Homo sapiens: one gene and its partners. The protein of the gene in region 2 interacts with the protein of the main gene of each other region in a pairwise test. Each region holds a gene or a part of one and is shown on either strand. Other genes may lie near its edges. The genes, in order: PDLIM3, PALLD and NCKIPSD.

Region 1 (4,356 bases), about 17 Mb from region 2:
CCAAAGCAGGATTTTCTAGGACCATTTAGGATGCAGCCAGTGCTTCTTCCTTAGAATTCTCCCTCCCAGCTAGTCTCACCTCTACCTTAACAGTCACTTCTGAGCACTTTCCTGCTGGTCTCCGTGAAGAGCAGGATGTAGGAAAACTGCCCATCTCATGTCCCTGCTTTCCACACTCTCTGCAAAGCCTTAGGAACTCATCAAGCCTGGGTGACAGATTAAGACTCTGTCTCCAAAAAAAAAAAAAAAAAACAAAAAGAAAGAACTCATCAGATATTATGTGGATATTGTATAGATATTGGCTACATCTAAATGATGCCAAAATGACCAGCAAAAAGGCAAAGAAAAAATCAGCTGTTTATATAAGCCAGCTCGTGAAGTAAGGTAAAAACAATTACTATAATTACACAACACCAAATGACTTGTCTGATTTTTTTTTTCTGAATGGACCTCTGTGTGTGTGCACGTGTATGTCTGCACCACGCAGACAGAGCCAGCAGCTGACTGAAGAAATGTGCTCTGCAGTGATACAGCCACAGCCCAAACAGGCAGTCAGCAGGACACACAATGTTCAGCTCCTCGATGGTCCAGCATAGATGGGGCACTGGGAAATGTGTGGAGCTAGAAAGTGCTTATCCCCTGGGACTTTTATGTAATCCACCACAGCGGACAAAGTAATGCCCATCCTACCTTTGTGATTTACATTTGCCCAGGCTGGTTCGCTTTGCTTACTGCTTACTGCTTACTGCTTTCTGCATCTCCTTTCTCTTTCCTCCATCAGTCTTAAAACTGCTTCCAAACAGACTGCCCTCTTAAAAGTCTGCTGCAGCTCTGTCCTCCTGGACCAATACGACCCTATCATATGGGGCATTAAGTCCAAGACCCTTATTCTTGAGTGTTTAAAGCATTTCTTATTTCTCTTCCCTCATTCTCCCCTCTCCCTTTGGGAATCACAACATCCCAACGCGTAACACCAGAAATACTTGAGTCCACACTGAGACTACCACAGGACCCCGGCCAGACTCTCCTGCACTTTGGGAGGCTGAGGTGGGAAGATTGTTTGAGCCCAGGAGTTCAAGACTAGCCTGGGCAACAAAGTGGAGACCCGGTCTCTAAGAAAAATAAATAAATAAAATAAAAATTTAAAAGGACATTAAGTAATTTGGCCAAAGCCGCAGAGGTCGTAAGTAAATATTAACGCACTCGAAACTGCTAAATAACTTATTGTATCGATGATGCTCGTTTTAATTGAAAGCATGGAGGCTGTGGTCTGGCTGCTTTCGCTTCCAACAAAGTGCACTGCTGCGCTCCAAGCAGAAGATAAACAGGGAGACAGGTGTGACTTCAAGAGAGCGACGGACGCTGTAACCCGAAGCCCCCGCGCCCGCCGCGGCCCGGGAGGCTGCCCCAGCCGGCCGGGCTGCGCACTCCCGCGGGGCTGGCGCGGCTCTCGCTTCCAAAGTTGGAGCTCTCCGGGGTGGGAGGGGGCGGGGAGGACGGCGGGGCGGTGACGTCACCCCCAGCGGGGATAAAGCGCCCCCGCCCGGGTCGGGGCCAGGACGCCGCCCGGCGCGGAGTGGCTGCCCTGCGCGGGGACACTTAGAGCCCGGTGGGCGGGAGGAAGGCGGCATGCCCCAGACGGTGATCCTCCCGGGCCCTGCGCCCTGGGGCTTCAGGCTCTCAGGGGGCATAGACTTCAACCAGCCTTTGGTCATCACCAGGGTAGGTGTCGGCATTCTTGCTTTTGCTGCGAGGTGGGGACTCCGGCGGCGTCCGGGGGGACGCAGTGGATGCCCCGGGGCCGAGGGCGGCCAGAAAGCGCGCGAGGGCGGGCGGACGGGGCGCTGCTGGCTCCCGGGCTTCGGCGCCCAGCTCCGGGGGCGGCGGCAACTCCGTCAAGTGGCTGCGGAGCGGCTCAGAGATTTGACAAAGTCCGCTCTAAAGGTGTCCCATCCTCTGGGTCCGCAGCGACTTTCCGAGGAGAGCCACTGGGCTCAGGGAAGGCGAGGCTGCCAGGCTCGAGTGCCTCCTCCCCTTTAGGTTTTAAATGTTTTATATGTGATAACAGAAATAAAACACACCCCATCGCCCTTCCGTAACAAATGATGGGTCCCGGGTGGGAGAGGCGAGGGACTGGCACCCCCCGGCATTCCCTGGAGCTGGCGCGCATCTGAGCGTTTTTCTCGTCCGGATGAAAAGTTCAGCAGCGCGCTGTTCGCGGGGCACGACCTGCGTTGGCCAAACTGGAGCCGCTCCTATCAGCCCAGACAGGGGAAGTCTTCCTAATGCTCACTCCTCAGTTTCCAGGCATTTTGAGCACGTTTTCCAAAGCTGAGAACTTGGCTTAGGAATTACCAACTTCTAACTCTAGCTACAAAGAAAACGTGGCAGACAGTTTAGTTTACCTGATGCAAAGTAAACCACTCAGCCTAAAACGGAAAATAATGCTTTAATGTCAAAGTCAAGCTTTACTTGGTGTTCTCTACTGTCTAATGAGAAAACAAGGTAAAAATAAAACCTCAGGGTTTCTCTCCTGTCAGTAAATTTGTAGAATTAATTCTAAAGCATTATTTGGTCTAGCTGGTTTTTTTCTAACACAATGTTTTTCTTCATAGAAAATTAATGTATTATTTCAGTTATCACATATAAAACATTTAATACCTAAAGGCGTAAACTTCCAGAATATTATACTTTTAGTTGCAGAGTATTATACTTTATTTTCTTGTATTCTTCTCATGCCATATTTTATAATTGTATGTGTTATAATCTGATTGATCTGCTCATACAGATTTTGAACAAGGTAATACCTTTTAAATTCTGTTTTATTTATATATGCCTATGAGATTTGGGAACCAACATCCTTTTAAAAATATGTCAAAATGTGTATCCTACAGACGCATACAATGGAACGTTTCAAGCCTTGTTTTACATTTTTCAAAAACATATAAACACATCTGACGTGTTTTTATATGAAACATGAAAACTGTTCAACATACCCCCAAAAACGTTCCTAAGTAAAGTAAGCAGAAAATGCTTCAGTGACCTGGGCCAAGCAATTCCTATTATAGATTTACCAACAAAAACAGTTTCCGTTATATCTACTAAGAAATGTTTTAGTTTCTGGAGTATGGTTTTTATTTAAATTGAATAAGCTTTTGAATCCTAACACAGAATAAATCATATTTATATTAAATTCTAACCAAAATAATTTTGTCACGAAAACTTTTAAGGTGTTTATAAAAGAAATATTTTGCTATTATAGTATAATCGTATGTCAATATAATTAATCATATGCTTGAAATTTTGAGTTGTTGACATTATAAATGTTTATTTTAAAGCAGTACTTACATTCCAGAGTTGGACTACAATAGCTATTGGTAAATATATTTGATATAATGGCAGTTATTATTAGGGAAACCAATTCTATCTGGAATTCCTAACTCATAACTAATTTGTATCACTCATTTTTGACATTTGGTTCAATAACAGTTTATGACCAAATATGATTTCACTTGATTATGGCTTTTCTCTTTAATTAATTCTAGGACAGCAGGTAAAACCAAATCATTTTTGTATCCCAAGTGTCCCCAAAGCCAGGTATATAGTAGATTCTTATTGAATAAATAAGAACATTTATTTATTCAATAAGAACTTTTATGCTTTAGTGAACACCTAATTCAGAATATTTTCACTGAAATGATAAGAATATTGAAATTTGTTAAGGAAAAGAATAAAAAGTATTACAGAAAAGTATTACAGAAAAATAACTATCAGTATTGTTAAATGGTGAATTGTTGTACTGCTTTTAACATTTTAACACCATTTTGAAAGGCAGTGTGTGAGGTTGTAAGTGTGTTATTGTACTCTCTTGCTTGCCAGGCATTGATGGGAACCTTTTATGTGCACGAACTCACTGAAATCTCACAATAATCTTTAGGAGAGTAGCAGTAGTGACATCCCCTTTTGCAAATGAGGAGAATGAGGCTTCAAAAGATTTATTAACCCGCCGATGATCACAAGCAGTGGGACAGGCTCTGACGCTAGGTCTGTGTGCCTCCAAAGCCTGCATTCTGAAGGCCACATGTGAAAATGGACACCTGTTCCAATATTTCTAAAGAGTTGTTTTGTGCCATCCTGTTCATCACTGGCCTTATTGATGCTGTCTTCAACATCTGCCACTTTCCATTTTTTCTACTACTGTCCCTCTTCAAGATTTCCTAGCTCCACGCCTAGACATTTGGCTCCCCCGTCCAATTCACACAGCATATTCTTACCGTCTCTGGAAAATGCCAAATTGCTCCTTTCTCATTCTTAAAAATCCTTCAGCGGCATCACTTGTTTGTAGAGAGTGAAATG
Region 2 (3,650 bases):
GCGGGTGGATGACAAGGTCAAGAGATCGAGACCATCCTGCTAACAAGGGGAAACCCTGTCTCTACTAAAAATACAAAAATTAGCCGGGCATGGTGGTGGGCGCCTGTAGTCCCAGCTACTCAGGAGGCTGAGGCAAGAGAATGGTGTGAACCTGGGAGGCGGAGGTTGCAGTGAGCCAAGATGGAGCCACTGCACTCCAGCCTGGGCAACAGAGCGAGACTCCATCTCAAAAAAAAAAAAAAAGAAAAAGAAAAAGAGAAAGGAAGCACATTTTAAGCAAAAGGAGCAGCAAGTGCAAAGGTGTGAAAACCAGAAAGAATCTGAATTGTTTGAGGAATGGTGAGTGGGCCAGGGAGGCCTGAGTGCATGTGTGTTGGTGATGACAGAGGGTGAGGCTGGAGCATTTCCATCAGCTCAGGCTGTCCACGGGTATGTTTAACCTGCACATCGTGCTTTGGAACTTTTCTCATCAGCCGGGGAGCATCATAGGAAAAAAATAAAAACCAAAAGAGTGACGTGACACAATTTGTACCTATGATCTCTCTTACCATTTTTATCCCTTACTGCAATTTGTTGAAACTATTTTAATAGAAATTATCACGCTCCTCCTTGTAACTGAGTTATTTTTTACTCTTGTCTAATCCCTCCTACTGGATTGTAAGATCATTTAAGGAGAATAACTACGCCTGCCTCATCTTTGTCCTCCTTGAAGCTTCTCTTGCACAACTAAGCAGTTGTTCCGTTGATTTCATGTTCAACTTACTATTCCAGGAAAGGGAAGTAGAAGAAAGGAAGCATGACTGTAAGATGGGCGAGGCCAAGGAAGAGTCATTTCCTCCATGGTGAAGAACATAATGCTACGCAACTTCAAGCAAATTAAAAAACAGTTGTGGTTGGCCAGGCATGGTGGCTCACACCTGTAATCCCAGCATTTTGGGAGGCTAAGGTGGGCAGATCACAAGGTCAGGAGTTCAAGACCAGCCTGGCCAATATGGTGAAACCCTGTCTCTACTAAAAATACAAAAATCAGCTGGGAGTGGTGGCAGGCACCTGTAGCCCCAGCTACTCGGGAGACTGAGGAAGGAGAATCTCTTGAACCCGGCAGGTGGATCTTGCAGTGAACTGAGATCATGCCACTGCACTCCAGCCTGGGCGACAAAGCAAGACTCCAACTCAAAAAAAAAAAAAAAATGGCTGTGGCTAATGAGCGTTTTAGGGAAAATGACAATTAAGCTAAACTGCTAAAGCTGGAGATGATGGATAAGACAAGGATGAGAAAAAGAAGAAGACAGAAGAATTTCTAGGAAATTCAGATTCCTTCTGAGAAAAGTGAGGAGGCAGGGGACAGGACAATTTAAAGATGCCAAAGAATCCTTTATTCTTCAAAATTTCAAAATCTTTCAATGCTACTTACTAAAGTAGAACCACTTTAATGGCGTTGGTGTTTACCTCATTTCCTCTTCACTCATTAACAGCAGTATTAGTGGGTCTTTTTAGTCTATTTCATCTTCTGTGTCTATCACACCGGCATAGAATTACCAAGAGCACTGTTTGACAGAAAACATGAAATCTCAGGCAAATGATGGAGATGTTTGTGATTGTGTTTCATTCCTTTTGATTTTGACCTTTTCATTTTGGAGTGCTGACTGACATGGAAATCTCTGAAGCACAATTTTCCAGTGAACTTGGCCCGCTTGGAAACCGCCCTTGTTCATCCTCATTGAATGAGCATTTTCCCTAGACCACGTGCATGTTCCCGCGGCAATAACTGGCTTGCAAATTAAGCCTGAACCAGATATGCCATAGAACTATTATTTTCTTTTTCAATGTGCAAGCAGTTTTAAAGCTACACCTAATCCTGACTACTGGATCCTGTCAGATGGCGCCTCTTTAAAACCAAAATATGAGTTAATAAGCAGGTGAGATAATCTGCCTCCAGCAAACACTCCCTACATTAAGAATTGAAAATGTTTTCATCATTCAGAAGTTTGCTTTAAGCTTTGTTATATAATGCTCCTTGTGAAGTTTTAAAATGTATCATATTATGTTCATTTGGAACTAAAAAGCAATTGAATTAATAGCAGAACTCTGATTTCTGATCCACAGTTTTGTTAGTTTGATACATTGCTTAGGATTCTCAATTATGAAAACTACAATGGTAAGATGGTAAAGTGCATAGAACATGAGCTCTGGAGTTATTCCCTGGGCTTAAACCTTGGTTCTCCCACTCAGATTTTCTGCCTCCATTTCCTCCTTTCTAAACCAGAGGCTGCTGTGAGGGTTTTAAATGAAATAATCTACATGATGACTCTGGGCACAATGCCCACCGCAGGGTAAGCAGTCCATTATTAGCCATTATCATTATCAATCATCGTGATCATTAATTGCCTTTATATGTGTTATATGAAGTCATTAGGTAGCTAATGTTCTATAGAAGGGGTTGGCAATTTTTTCCTGTAAAAGTGCAGGTAAATATTTTAGACTTCATGTGCCATATAGTCTCTGTTGCAACTACTCAACTCTGACATTGGTTCAAAAAAACAAAGACAATCTCTACATTCAAACTCCTACCCATGAATTCCAACCCAGCATATATGTCAAAGGCCACCTATTCCTTGACCATATTTTCAATGGCCTTGCCCACTTCCCTCCCATTTTACCTGCATGTCAAACTGGGATCATCTATCTCTGTACCTTCACCTGGATGGCTGAGCTCTGGTGGAGAGAATTGCACAATCACACAGATTAATGACACTATAAATACATCACATCTAACTTCAACCAGGCCCTCACCTCTACCCATAAATCCTTCTTACAAAACTTCCTTCCCCCTTTTTCTACAACAGCTATTTCAAATCATCTTCTGTCCTCATAAACCTCCAATGCACAGAAGTCTCAGTTTGGGAACTCTCCTTTCTTTCTATTACAAATTTTGCAGAGAATCTCATGTTTCTCTCTCTCTCCCTTTCTCTCTTACCGCCCCCCATGCCCCAACACACATACACCCTTTGTTACTTCTCTCCTTTAACAATGAAAGAACTGCCCCCTTCCTACTGGAAGCTGAACACCTCATACTCCGTTTGTCCTATAATAACTCATTTCTTCTTACATCTTTTGAGAGCTGACCTATAAATCATCCCCGCTTTTTTACATTTATTTTCAGCTTCTCCCTTCTTACTGCCTAATTTGGTTTGTATAAAACATGTTACAGCGCTCTATCCTAAAAATGAACAAACCTCACCAGAGTCTATACTTTTGTTCAACTACTACCTTCTGTCTCTCCTTCTTTCTATGATCTTTTCAAAACAAACCACCACACCTGTAATATTTTCTTTCTTTCCTTCTTTCCTTTCCTTCCATGTAGCAATCTGGCTTATATTTCTGTTGCATACACCGAAAGTGCTGTTGCAATGGTGCTAAATATTCCCAAGTTGCTAAAATCAAAAATCAAAAGGACATGTACTGCTTCCTGAGATATTTTCTTTCCCAGCTTCCACGATATCTAGCTTTTCTTGCTTCCCTGTGATTATTCGAAGGATTCTATCTTCTCCTTCTTTTTTCCTCGATGACCTTATGCATTCCCATGTCTTAAAGTGCCACCCATAGGCTAATAATCCCCAATCCAGCTCTGTTCTCCCTTCTCCTGGGCT
Region 3 (3,650 bases), on a different chromosome or scaffold from region 2:
GAAACTCTGTTACTCTGCCCTCATCCTGGCCATGGTCTTCTCCATGGGAGAGGCAGTGCCCTATGCACACTATGGTAAGAATGCAGTAACCGACCAGCTGATCACAGGTCCTAAGCCAGGGCCCATTGCCCGAGGGCCTGGGACCTGCTGACTACACAGCCTAGCAGGGAGAGGCTATCCCCAAGGCTCACAGAAAGCCAGGAAGGGTGGGTGGTGCGGGGGTCGGAGGGGAATGGGGCTGCAGACTTCTGTGCGCCCCTCTCCCAGAGCACCTGGGCACGCCTTTCGCCCAGTTCCTACTGAACATCGTCGAGGATGGGCTGCCCTTGGACACCACAGAGCAGCTGCCGGACCTCTGCGTGAACCTGCTTCTGGCTCTCAACCTGCACCTGCCAGGTGGGGTGGGGCCTGGCTGGGCGGTGGCTGAGCACATGGTGGCTCTCAGGCTCAGCACCCTGTCTATACCCATGTCCTTCCTTAGCTGCTGACCAGAATGTCATCATGGCTGCCCTGAGCAAACACGCCAATGTCAAGATCTTCTCCGAGAAGCTGTTGTTGCTCCTGAACAGAGGGGGTGAGGGCCCGGGAATCTGCGCGGGTACCACTTCCATGCCCTGTGACTCCATGACCCCTGCAATGACTCCCGTAACCCCCTGGGGTGACTCTGGGATCCCCACAAGGTCCACCCTGACCGCTATGACCCCTGCCTCCTAGATGACCCTGTGCGCATCTTCAAACATGAGCCACAGCCACCACACTCTGTCCTCAAGTTCCTGCAGGACGTGTTTGGCAGCCCGGCCACAGCTGCCATCTTCTACCACACAGACATGATGGCTCTCATTGACATCACTGTGCGGCACATCGCAGACCTGTCACCAGGAGACAAGGTGCCTGGAGGTGGCTGCAGCAGCGGGGGTCACTGTGTGGAAACTGAAACAAAATGGTGGGGGGCATGACATTGAGTGGAGATGAGGGGGCAAGGCCACTGCTGGAGCCAGGTAAGTGTAGGAGGCCATGATAGGTGCACCAAGACCCAAAGGAGCCAGCCATGAGGTGATCTGGAGGTGGTGGGGCTGGAGGAGGCTGGAGAGGAGGGAGTGGAGGGAGATGAGGCATGGAGGATGGAGTTTACACAAAGCCTCGGAGGCTGCTGCAAGAGGTTGTGATCTCAGGACCGGGGAATGTGATGTGATTAACATCCCACATGGAATCAACTGCATGCCAGCAGAGTGGAAGCCAGCCAGGGAGGAAGCAGCCTCAGTGGTCCAGGTGGCATGGATGGGGTGGGGATGGGATAGGTCGTGGCAGTGGCAGTGGCGAGAAGAGGCCAGCTGTGGAGTGTTTAGTAAGTGGATCTGGCAGGGCTTGCCACTTGATTTATCTTGAGCAGCTAGATGGATGAAGTGCTGATTTTTGAAGTTGGGGAGGCTGGGAGAACTTCTTGGGGGAAAATAGAGAGTCGTGTTTTGAATGTGTCAAGAATGAGGAGATATCTGCTAGACACCCAGGTACCGAGGGCATCAGGGAGGCAGTGGGGAATGAGTTGAGACTAGAGAGACATTTCGGAGTGGTCTATGCAGAGATACGATGGGAAGCCTGTGACAATGTGATTGCCTCAGAAATGAGATAGATAGGCAGGTCAGCGGGAAGTTCGGGCTGCAGCCCTGGGCACAGCTGAAACAACTAGGGAGAAACCCAGGAAGAGAACCAAGAAAGCAGGAGCCCAAAGCCACATGTTTAGAGGAAGACGATCAGCCATCTCTATACCGTTAGGAGCCTGAGCGAGACTGGGGTTGGCCATTGGATTCACCACACAGAGGTCAGTGGTGCCTGACAAGCAGTGTCAGTGGGGTGCAAGGAGGAGAGTCTGAATGAAAGTTTGAGAGAGCTTGAAGTTATTGGGGAGTAGAAATGAGGGGAGGGTTGGAAGCAGTAAATGGAGACAACTCTTGTGAATTTTCTATTAAGGGGAAGAGAAAAATGGAAGGGAGGTTGCTGGAGAGAGATGACATGGGGATAGGGAGAGTGTTTTTTTGGGGGTTTTTTGTTGTTGTTGTTTGTTTGTTTGTTTGTCTCCCACTGTTGCCAAGGCTGGAGTGTAGTGGCACGATCGTGGCTCACTGTAACCTCCGCCTCCTGGTTTCAAGTGATTCTCCTGCCTCAGCCTCCCAAGTTGCTGGGATTACAGTCACCCACTACCACACCCAGCTAATTTTTATATTTTAGCAGAGACAGGGTTTCGCCATGTTGGCCAGGCTGGTCTTGAACTCCTGACCTCATGCAATCCACCTGCCTCAGCCTCCCAAAGTGTTGGGATTACAGGTGTGAGCCACCGTGCCTGGCCAGGGAGAGTGTTTTGAAGATGGGGGATGTTGGCCAGGCGCGGTGGCTCATGCTTGTAATCCCAGCACTTTGGGAGGCTGAGGTGGGTGGATCACTTGAGGTCAGGAATTCGAGACCAGCCTGGTCAAAGTGGTCTCTACTAAAAATACAAAATACGAAAAATACAAAAATTAGCTGGGTATGGTGGTGGGAGCCTGTAATCCCACCTACTTGGGAGGCTGAGGCAGGAGAATTGCTTGAACCCGGGAGGTGGAGGTTGCTGTGAGCCAAGATCACACCACTGCACTCCAGCTTGGGTGACAGATGGGGGATGTTGGCCAGGTGCAGTGGCTCACGCCTATAATCCCAGCACTTTGGGAGGCCGAAGTGGGAGGATCACTTGAGTCCATGAGTTCAAGATCAGCCTGGGCAACATAGTGAGACCTCTGTATAACCTGATGGACCACAGTAGAAAATAAAATTAGCTGGGCATGGTGGTATGCACCTGTAATTCCAACTACTTTGGAGGCTGAAGTGGGAAGATTACTTGAGCCCAGGAGGTCAAGGCTGCATTGAGCCATGATTGTGTCATTGCACTCCAGCCTGGGCAACAAAGCCAGACCTTGTCTCTTTAAAAAACAAAAACAAAAATGGTACGGATGATGGTGCATGTTCTGAGCCGGAGGGAATGATCCAGCAAGCACAGAGAGATGGATGATGTGTTGGAGATGGTGAGCCACCACAGGAGTCAAGTGGATGGGGCAGGAGGGGAGAGTTCAGGTCCAGGCCCACATGGACAGGAGCTAGGGCTGCTCATTCTGGTAGGGACAGGTGAGATGTGGGTACTGAGGGGAAAGACGGGTTTCTGCAAGATTACTTCTGTATTCTCTATGAAGCACAAGGCCAGCTGACAAGGTAGGTAGGTTTCAAAGACAGAGAAGGTGGACATTATTACTACTCTAAGGGAGAGTGACACAGCAGAGAAAAGCAGTGGGAGGCTCAGGCAGTGCTGTGTGTCCGTTTGAGGTTTGCGGTGGTGAATGACATTCAGGCCTGCACATGGCTCTGCATTTGTCTATAGCTTAGACGCTGGTGTTTGATGTGCAGGCACCTCAGTATGACTCCCAGGGCTGGGACTTAGCAGGGTGTGCTGCCTAAAGGAGGTTTTGGTATTATTTCTCTAATTAAAGGTAAAAAGAGAAATGAGGGATGTTGAGGGAAGCAGACATCAGGTCAGTGGACTGGGGGTCTCTGTGAGAACAAGCTGTCAAGTCATAAGGGCTGGCCGGGCGTGGTGGTTCACGCCTGTAATCCCAGCACTTTGGGAG

What was found.
Region 1: the proteins of PALLD (region 2) and PDLIM3 interact in a two-hybrid assay, tested with the Homo sapiens proteins (one large-scale study listed by BioGRID and IntAct).
Region 3: the proteins of PALLD (region 2) and NCKIPSD interact in binary tests that used the Homo sapiens proteins (3 or more experiments, as listed by UniProt).

Annotation. Positions count from the first base shown.
Region 1 is NC_000004.12:185,532,708-185,537,063, reverse strand, and holds the start of PDLIM3 (PDZ and LIM domain protein 3), read left to right. Parts: upstream 1-1,556; 5' UTR 1,557-1,629; coding exon 1,630-1,722; intron 1,723-4,356. UniProt on the Homo sapiens protein: May play a role in the organization of actin filament arrays within muscle cells.
Region 2 is NC_000004.12:168,503,419-168,507,068, forward strand, and holds part of PALLD (palladin), read left to right. Parts: intron 1-3,650. UniProt on the Homo sapiens protein: Cytoskeletal protein required for organization of normal actin cytoskeleton. Roles in establishing cell morphology, motility, cell adhesion and cell-extracellular matrix interactions in a variety of cell types.
Region 3 is NC_000003.12:48,675,801-48,679,450, reverse strand, and holds part of NCKIPSD (NCK-interacting protein with SH3 domain), read left to right. Parts: coding exon 1-74; intron 75-267; coding exon 268-396; intron 397-481; coding exon 482-574; intron 575-714; coding exon 715-887; intron 888-3,650. UniProt on the Homo sapiens protein: Has an important role in stress fiber formation induced by active diaphanous protein homolog 1 (DRF1). Induces microspike formation, in vivo. In vitro, stimulates N-WASP-induced ARP2/3 complex activation in the absence of CDC42.